Linked DNA regions of Homo sapiens: region 2 is linked to region 1. The links come from fine-mapping of genetic effects on gene expression. A gene starts in region 1. The other region holds a variant in brackets. All regions are shown on one strand. Distances are from middle to middle.

Region 1 (4,392 bases):
TCTACAAAAAATACAAAATTAGCCAGGTGTGGTGGCACATACCTGTAATCCCAGCTTACTCAGGGGGCTGAGGCAGGAGAATTGCTTGAACCTTGGAGGTGGAGGTTGCAGTGAGCTGAGATGGTGCCATTGTACTCCAGCCTGGGCAACAAGAGTGAAACTCTGTCTCAAATAAATAAGTAAATAAATAAATAAATAAAATCTTTAAGAGGATAAGCAATTTGGTTTGTTCCTCCAGATGTCTCTATCACCTAGAAGAGTAGCATATAGTTAGTAATTAGTGGTTATGTAAATGAATAGAAAAGAACATGAAGTCACAGGCTTAAAATATGAAGGTAATTTAGAAGTCATTTTGGAGCAAGCATTTAAATAAGTTAGAATCTTGGCTCCACTGTTTATTGGTGTTTGACCTTGGGCACACACTTAACCTCTTTGTGCTTCAAAGATTTCAAGGAGACCAAAGAAATACTACTACTTTCACAGTTTATTGTGAAGAATAAATGTGTTTAAATATATAGAGTGCTTAGAACAATTCTTGGCTAAGACACTCAAAAATTTGAGCTCATTGTGATTGAGGAGAAACCAGCCCAAGGTCAGGCATGTATATTTTTTGGTTGTTTTTGTTGTTGAAGAGACAGAGGTCTCACCATATGGTGCAGGCCAGATTCCAACTCCTAGGCTCAAGACACCCTCCCACCTCAATCTCCCAAGCAGCTGGGATTACCAGTAGGCGCCGCTGTGCCCACTAAGGTCAGGCTTCTAATCACCCAGGTCTGACCCAGATTTTCTCACTCCTCCTCTATCACTTTATTTCTTTATATGATTTGGCAGATATCAAAAGTCCTCCCTTTCCAAATATCTCACTATACTACTTTGTTTTTTACATATGGGCAGAATTTTTCACCATTGCACTCATTTTTCTAAATCAGGCAGGATTTAGATTTCTCTTTCTTTCCTTTCTTTTTTTTTCTTTTTCTTTTTTTTTTTGACAGATTCTTGCTCTAACACCCACACTAGAGAGCAGTGGTATGATCTTGGCTCACTGCAACCTCCCCCTCTCCCGTTCAAGCGATTTGGTGCCTCAGCATCCCAAGTAGCTGGGATTACTTACATGTGTGTACCACCATGCCTGACTAATTTTTGTACTTTTTGTAGAGACTGGGTTTCACCATGCTGACCAGGCTGGTCTCAAACTCCTGGCATCAAGTGATCCACCGGCCTCAGACTTCCAAAATGATGGGGCTACAGGTGTGAACCACCACACCCAGCCATCAGTGGGTTTTTTAATAAAACAAACAGCTAAGGATGAACTGGAAACCACAAACTGAGCTCTTTTTCTATGACCTAGCCTCCCCGGTTAACCTTAGGCAAAGAGTAGTGGTCAGCGGGCCTGCCTATGGGTAAATTCTAAAAGCCTCGCCAGAGACACTTAACTTTTTTTAACCCCTGTGGTTAAAGAGGACGGGTGGGTGCAGAGGGAATTTTATAAACGACACAAACACAAACAATTTTAAGTCCTGAAAAAATTCATTTGGATGTTTGTTTTGCTTCTGTTTTATAGCTTGTTTTAAATCAAAGACTACACCTTCCTGAGACAAGCGTTGATTACACACAAAATGAAGACTGGCCAGGGCCGTGGCTCAAGCCTGTAATCCCAGAATTTTGGGAGGCCCAGGTGGGTGTGTGGGTAGGGTGGGGGATCCTGGGTATCTCGTAAGCCCAGGAGTTCCAGACCAGCCTGGGCAATATAGGAGAGCCCCACCCCTACCATCTCTTAGAAAAATATAAATAAATAAATAAATAAATAAATAAATAAATAAATAAATAAAAGCCGGGCATGGGGGTGCGCGCCTGTAGTCCCGGCTACTTGACGGGCTGAGGTGGGAGCCTGGAAAGTCGAGGCTGCGCCACTGCACTCTATCCTGAGCTACAGAGCGAGACCATATCTAATGTGGGGGGGTGGGGTAAGAGGAAGGGGGAGCGGGGAGAGGGAGAGAGAAAGAGAGCGGGAAAAAAGAAGGAGGAGGAAGAGGAGGAGGAGGACACAGGTGTGACCATTGTCCTCCAGAGCTACAGATTCTGGCATTCTAAAGGAAGAAGGACAAAGAAACCAAAACCAGTTTCTCCAAGGCTTCAGCTTTTCAGTCTGACCATTTGATCTACATTCCATTATTTTGGCAGCATGGTGGGAGTGGATTCGGAATGGACAAAAACCCTTTTCAGAATTAGATCAGCTAATTAAAATGCACACAAACTTCTTTGTTCCTTCACCTCAAGGAGCGTCCTTGGAAAGCAAACATACTTCGGGGCATTTCAGTGGGGGCGCAGTGCGAGGGTGTCCTTTGCGCCTCAGCTCCGGAGAAAAACGAAAGGTGGGTGGGAAACTAGGATAGAGGTGAAAAGTAAGAGGGGACTGAATCAGCGAATGACAAAGGGAGCAGGGCTCCGGACAGGGGTAGGAGGAAGAAGAGGAGTGACTGGGGCTTGTGTCAAGCTTCTTCTGAATGGCTAGACAGCCGCCAGGTGGGAGAGGCGGAGGGTGAAGAGGCGGGTTCCGCACGCGGTTAGCCTGGGGCTGATCTAGTCTTCAGCTTTCACCGGCTGGGAGTCCGGAGCTGCAGCAGAGGCCACACCCAGGGCTTGGTGGTCCCGCGCTTTCCGGAGCTCAGCAGGCGCTTGCTGCTTGAACCGGTCAAAGAAGGAACGAATGAATGACCCTTTTGCCAGGATGGAGACCCGGGGGCCTCAGGGAGCTGCGAATCCCATGGACTCCTCCCGCAGCCTGGGGGACCTCGGGCCTTTTCCGCGGGAGGTAGGGCGCGGGGCTCCGCTAGCTCCGGGCGCCCGGAATCCCGCGACGGCAGGGGCGAGCCGAAGCCAGGGCGGCGGCCACGAGGACAGAACGGCAGATCGGGCCCTCGGACCTCGGGCCGGGGAGGAATTGGACCGTGAGTCCTGGGTCAGAGAGAAAGTGCTCTTTCTCCTGCACCCAGAGAGGTGGTTAGGGACTCGAGGGGACCCTGCACGGGAAGAGGTGGCCGGTGCAGAGGACCTTCCTCATGCGGGTGGAGAGGACCACGGCGAGGAGCCCAACTACCCTTCTGTCTTTCAACGACAAAAGCGAATTTCTGGCAGGCGTGTAGCCCCGCCGCGGGACGCAGCAGACCCACCCAAATACGTGCTTGTGCGGGTGGAGGATTATCAGGTAACACAAGAAGTGTTGCAGACCTCCTGGGCCAAGGGTCGCATGACCACGAGGACTGAGGAGCACTTCGTGACCGCGCTCACTTTTCGCAGCAGTAGAGAGGGACAGCCTGGGGAACGCTGGGGCCCTGCTGAATCCCGGGCTCTCCAGGCACGAACAGGGGCATCCCGCGTCCACGCCGCGGGGAGGAGGGTTTCACCGTCTCCAGGGACTTGGCTCGAGGAAATTAAACTCTAATGAGTAGCTCGAGAAATGTTCCGGGATGGTGGATGAGCGATCATCCTTAAAAGAAAATGCTATTCTGGGAGCTCCAACCTGCAATTAACCTACAGAAGGAACCTTTTGAGAGGCTGGTGCAGCGCTTCGGGGAGGCAGATTAAGAACTGTAAGCAGCATAATACCTCCTTTGTGGCTTGAATTCCTTCGCTGTCTGGGGACCTAAGTCATTCAGAAGAGGTGGAGAAAAGATATTTTCAGATTGGCAGAATGTGGGAGTTTTGAAATGAGAAAACCTGTTGTTAATTTGCATTTTGGAATAACTCTCAATTGATCTCTTTTCTGTTCCCCGCCCCCCTCTTGTTTCTCTTTAGGACCTAGAAACAGAAGTGAAGTTTGAAGTCTGCTCTCTGCAAAGAGGGTGGGAGTGGGTGGAGAAGAGGCTTGTTTTAAAAGCCAAAAACAGAAAGTAAAAAGAAATGGGAAAGTAAAACCAAAGCAGCAAGTGACTCTCTTCTGATGTGCACTTTTCATTTTTCTCCCCCACATTTCAGTGTTAGAAAGAAAACGAGAGGAGCTAGGGAAAGAAGGAGTTGGGGACAGAAGACTAAGATTTCAACGTGAAATTCCATTTACAAAGGCTTTACTGCAAACAATAGCTAATTTAGTCCTGTAAACATGCATTTATCATACATTTTAATTTTAATATTAAAAATACTGCATGTAAATGTTCTGAACTAAAGGTAGATAGCAATATGTAGTTTGCCATAAAATGAATGCATGTCTTATTCTTTTCCATAGTTCTTCATTAATGAGACTTGTAGTCAAGAATAGATTGAAGATACCATTCTCCTTGTGTAGTTCAAAAAAATCTCCTCTGGTAATACTGAAACAACTAATTTTTCTTATTTTGTTTGTTCCTCTTTATTATTAAATACTATGTGAATTAACTCTTTAGTAGTTGGCCTGGT
Region 2 (4,392 bases), 20 kb after region 1:
CAGTAGGATGATCTCATTTATTTTTTTAATTAATTACCTTTTTTTTTGAAATGCAGTTCTGCTCTTGTCACCCAGGCTGGAGTGTAAAGGCACAGTCTTGGCTCACTGCAATCTCTGCCTCCCAGGTTCAAGTGATTCTCCGGCCTCAGCCTCCCGAGTAGCTGGGATTACAGATGCCCACCACCATACCCGGCTAATTTTTGTATTTTTGGTAGAGACAGGGTTTCACCATGTTGGCTAAGCTGGTCTCGAACTCCTGATCTCAGGTGATCCGTCTGCCTCGCAAAATTTCTATCTGAATGCAGTAAGTAATAAATGTTAAGGAAATAATTGAAGAAAAGAGTGCCTTAAACACTAGAGGAATATGAAGATTTGAAGAGATTGTGGCACTCATGATTGAAACACAAAATTAGTTTTATAATATTAATTTTTCTCACTGTAACAGTTTAACGATGATTGTATTTTAAGAATATTTCCAGCTGGGTGTGGTGGCTCACATCTGTAATCCCAGCACTTTGGAAGGCCAATGTGGGTAGATCACCTGAGCCCAGGAGTTTGAGACCAGCCTGGGCAACATGGTGTAACCCTTTCTCTACTAAAAATACAAAAATTAACTGGGCATGGTGCCATGAACCTGTAATCCAAGCTACTTGGGAGGCTGAACTGGGAGGATCGCTTGAGCCTAGGAGGTCGAGGCTGCAGTGAACTGTGATCATGCCACTGCACTCCAGCCTAGGCAACAGAGAAGACCCTGTCAAAAAAAAAAAAAAAAAAAAGGAATATGTATGCATTTTTGCCTAAAATAAAAATAGTATTATTACTGGATTTTCTGGATTAAAACAGAAAAAAAAAAGGTCAAGTATAACTAGGGAAGTTTAGAATTCCTGAAGTAAACAGCAAAATCCTTTGAGAATAAGCCACTCTGAAAATCTGGACTATTGCTACTTGTCTCTTAGTACAAAGAAGCCTCCAGGTCCAGTTGTGTAAGAAACCAGGAAGAGCTTATATACAATATTGATTAGAGCTCAAGAGACAAAGTAAAAGAATTGTTCATAGTGAAAAGGGAGTGTTAAGAAAAACATAATTCCTTCCCTCCAAATACTAACAGCAGTAAGTCCAAGAGTCTGGAAAAGAGTCTGAAAAAAAAAAAAAACTTTATGCATGAAAAAATTATTGCTCCATGTCTTCTCTTACAAAATGATGGCTCAGTGTCAGATGTTGTTAACGTGCACTCCAGAGACCATTGTTTATGTTTCTAGGCTCTTTTTCTTTTGTTTTTTAGAAAAAACAAAATGTTGTTTTGAAATGTTGAGAGACATCGAGTTTATAACACTGCAAATTATATGCAGATTGTTTTTCATTTTTTAAAATTCTTGTTCCAGGTGTGATATTACATTTTTTACTTGAAAGTCATTAATCCAGGTAATATTTTCTCATGTATCCTCTTGTGTGTGTGTGTGTGTGTGTGTGTGTGTGTGTGTGTGTGTGTAAAAATCAGGAGACTGAATTATACTGTGTATCTTTTATTACTTAGTTACCAGTAGGTGAAGAAAGACTATTCTTGGGTGGCTGCTGTTTATCCATCACTGAGTGGATATCTGGAGTGAATGTTAAGCCATTGTTTGTATAAGCAGAAAGGCCAAAAATCACAAACTGCTTGTGGTGCAGCTTTGCTGTGACTCTGCTAGGAACAGAGAATTTATTTCAAGTTCGTAGGCTTCAGACATTTATGGAACAAATTCATTTCGTTCTCTGAATTTCAAAATTAACACTAGCGGAAAGCTCTTTCCTCCCACCTACCTTCCCCAAAGAAATCCTAAAAACAAAACAAAACAACAACAACAAAATCTTCTATTTACACATATTATTAAGGCAGAACTTTTTTGGTTGGGGTAAAGTTGCTGCCAACTGTCTTTCTGTTGCTTAACTTTCTCCTCAAACTCCTGAGGTTCTACCCTAGCCTCAGCCACAAGGAGTCTTCAAAGATTCCCTTAGAAAATGTTGCTTTAGTGCCTAGTGTCCCAGAGCCAATTTAGAACCAGTTCTGAAGTTTAGTGCTATATGGAAAAGTACGAAACCTTAGCACAGTCTTAAGTCTCTCCAGATTTTTCAAACCGCCTTTCTCAAGTAAGATACATTACCCACTGAAAGGGCAGGAACGCTTCTCTCTTGATAAACTTTTCCTTAGAGTTGAGGAAATGCTCAGGATTAAAAGTGTCTGGTTTTTCCCACTGTGCTTGATCTCGAGCTACTGAAGCCAGCAAGATGATAACCTCAGTGCCCTAGAAATACAAATGTTCGTATTAGTAACAGAGATTAAATTTCTTCCTAAAAAGGTCACTCTCTAAAGACATATCATGATCTTGGTTGGCAATTACTCAGAAGCAGG[G/A]TGTTCTGGAAGGAAATGGAAGAAGGGGAAGCCGAACAGTGGCAGGTGGACTTGAGGCTTAGTGTGGAGTATTCGCTTTCCTAACCACATGTTTATTCATGTGCTTACTAAAAAACTCAAGCCTTGGACTCAGAACTGGGAACAAATTCTTACTTAGCCATCTAGTGGCTATGTGATAACAGCATGTCATTTAACTTTTGATAAACCCCACTTTCTATATTTGTATAATGAGAGTTAAATAGTCTTCATCTGAGACTGAGCCTTAGAGGAAAGGATACATGTGAAAGAAACTGGCACAGTTCCTGGAAGGTTTGGGGGCTCTATGAAGGTTGGCTTTTATCTCCAGTGACTATGATAGTGGATATTAAATCAAACAAGCCCATTCCAAACATTCTCAAAAACAAGTTTCCCTGCTTCCAGAGCTTGCTGCATACTGGGAAACAACTTTCTACAAAAGAGAAAGTAATTTTAATTGTGATGTGGGAAAGGATATTCTGAGAACTAAAATAAATAAAATAAAATAATGATAAAAAACAAAATCTCTCCACCAAATTAAGAACAATATTCTCTACTTCATTTTGGTTCATTACAGTTGCCTCTTTTTAAATTTTATTTATTTATTTATTTATTTTGAGACAGAGCCTAACTCTGTTGCCCAGGCTGGAATGCAGTGGCACGATCTCAGCTCACTGCAAGCTCTGCCTCCCATGTTCGAGTGATCCTCATGCCTCAGCCTTCTAAGTAGTTGGGAATACAGGTGTGCACCACCACACTCAGCTACTTTTTTTTTTTTCGGTATTTTTAATACCATAAAGAGATGGGGTTCACCACGTTGGCCACGCTGGTCTCGAACCCCTGGCCTCAAGTGATCCACCCACCTCGGCCTCCCAAAGTGCTGGTATTACAGGTATGAGCTGCCATGCCTGGCCCTACAGTGGCCTCTTTAAGAAGGCTTTGTAATACTATCTTGGTGATTAGCTGTTTTACAACATGAATCTGTATAGTTTTTCAAATTACAAAAAGCAAACAACTGCTTTAAAATGTTCTGTTTTAAAACTTTAGGCTGGGTGTGATGGTGCACACCAGTAGTCCCAGCTACTCATGAAGCTAAGGCATGAGGATCGCTCAAGTCCAGAAGTTCCAAGGCTAGCCTGGGGCAACATAGTGTGACCCTATGTTTAAAAAAAATAAAAAATAAAAAACTATCTGTCTATTTATCTATGAGTGATTATTTGTATCCTGATATTGTGCAGACTTTCTCCTCCTCATAGCAACTGTGCTAGTTGTTTCCATTTCACAAAAAAGATGATTGAGGCCAGGAATGGTGGCTCACACCTGTAATCCCAGCCCTTCGGAAAGCCGAGGCGGGTAGATCACCTGAGGTCAAGAGTTTGAGACCAGCCTGGCCAACATAGTGAAACCCCATATCTACTAAAAATACAAAAAATAGCCAAGCGTGGTGGTATGCACCTGTAATCCCAGCTATTTGGGAGTCTGAGGCAGGAGAATCGCTTGACTGGGAGGCAGAGGTTGTAGTGAGCCGAGATCCTGCCACTGTACTCCAGCCTGGGCAACAGAGTGAGGCTCCATCTCAAAAACAAAACAAAACTAACAAAAAAACAAATAAAAAAAGAGATGATTGTGGCTGAGTCTCTGTAGCAAATAAGTGAGACCCCCTATATCTTCCTTCTCCTTCCTTCCTTCCTTCCTTCCTTCCTTCCTTCCTTCCTCCCTTCCTTCCTCCCTTCCTTCCTTCCTTGACAGGGTCTTGCTCTGTCACTCAGGCTGGAGGGTAGTGGTGCAATCATGGCTCATTGTAGCCTCAAACTCCTGAGCTCAAACAATCCTCTTTCTTCAATCTCTTGAGTAGCTGAGACTACAAATGCATGCCACCACATCTGGCTATATTTTAAATTATATTTGTAGAGACAAGGTCTTGCTATGTTGCCCAGGCTGGTCTTGAACACCTAAGCTCAAGCGATCCTCCTGCCTTGACCTCCCAA

What was found.
Region 2: its variant is fine-mapped to the expression of C6orf141 in tibial nerve (GTEx, PIP above 0.99). The same link has a PIP of 0.9 or more in skeletal muscle.

Annotation. Positions count from the first base shown.
Region 1 is chr6:49,548,086-49,552,477 of GRCh38, forward strand. It overlaps C6orf141 (chromosome 6 open reading frame 141), which reads left to right and starts at 2,583. Exons shown (of 1, transcript NM_001145652.2): 1 at 2,583-4,010. The coding sequence starts at 2,708. The coding sequence ends at 3,442. RefSeq lists a silencer at 2,568-2,627 and enhancers at 3,298-3,367, 3,384-3,903.
Region 2 is chr6:49,568,396-49,572,787 of GRCh38, forward strand. It overlaps the pseudogene CYP2AC1P. Among named protein-coding and RNA genes, the nearest start is that of C6orf141, 20 kb to the left of the region's middle. RefSeq lists a silencer at 2,241-2,535. The variant G/A (reference allele first, on the strand shown) is at 2,390.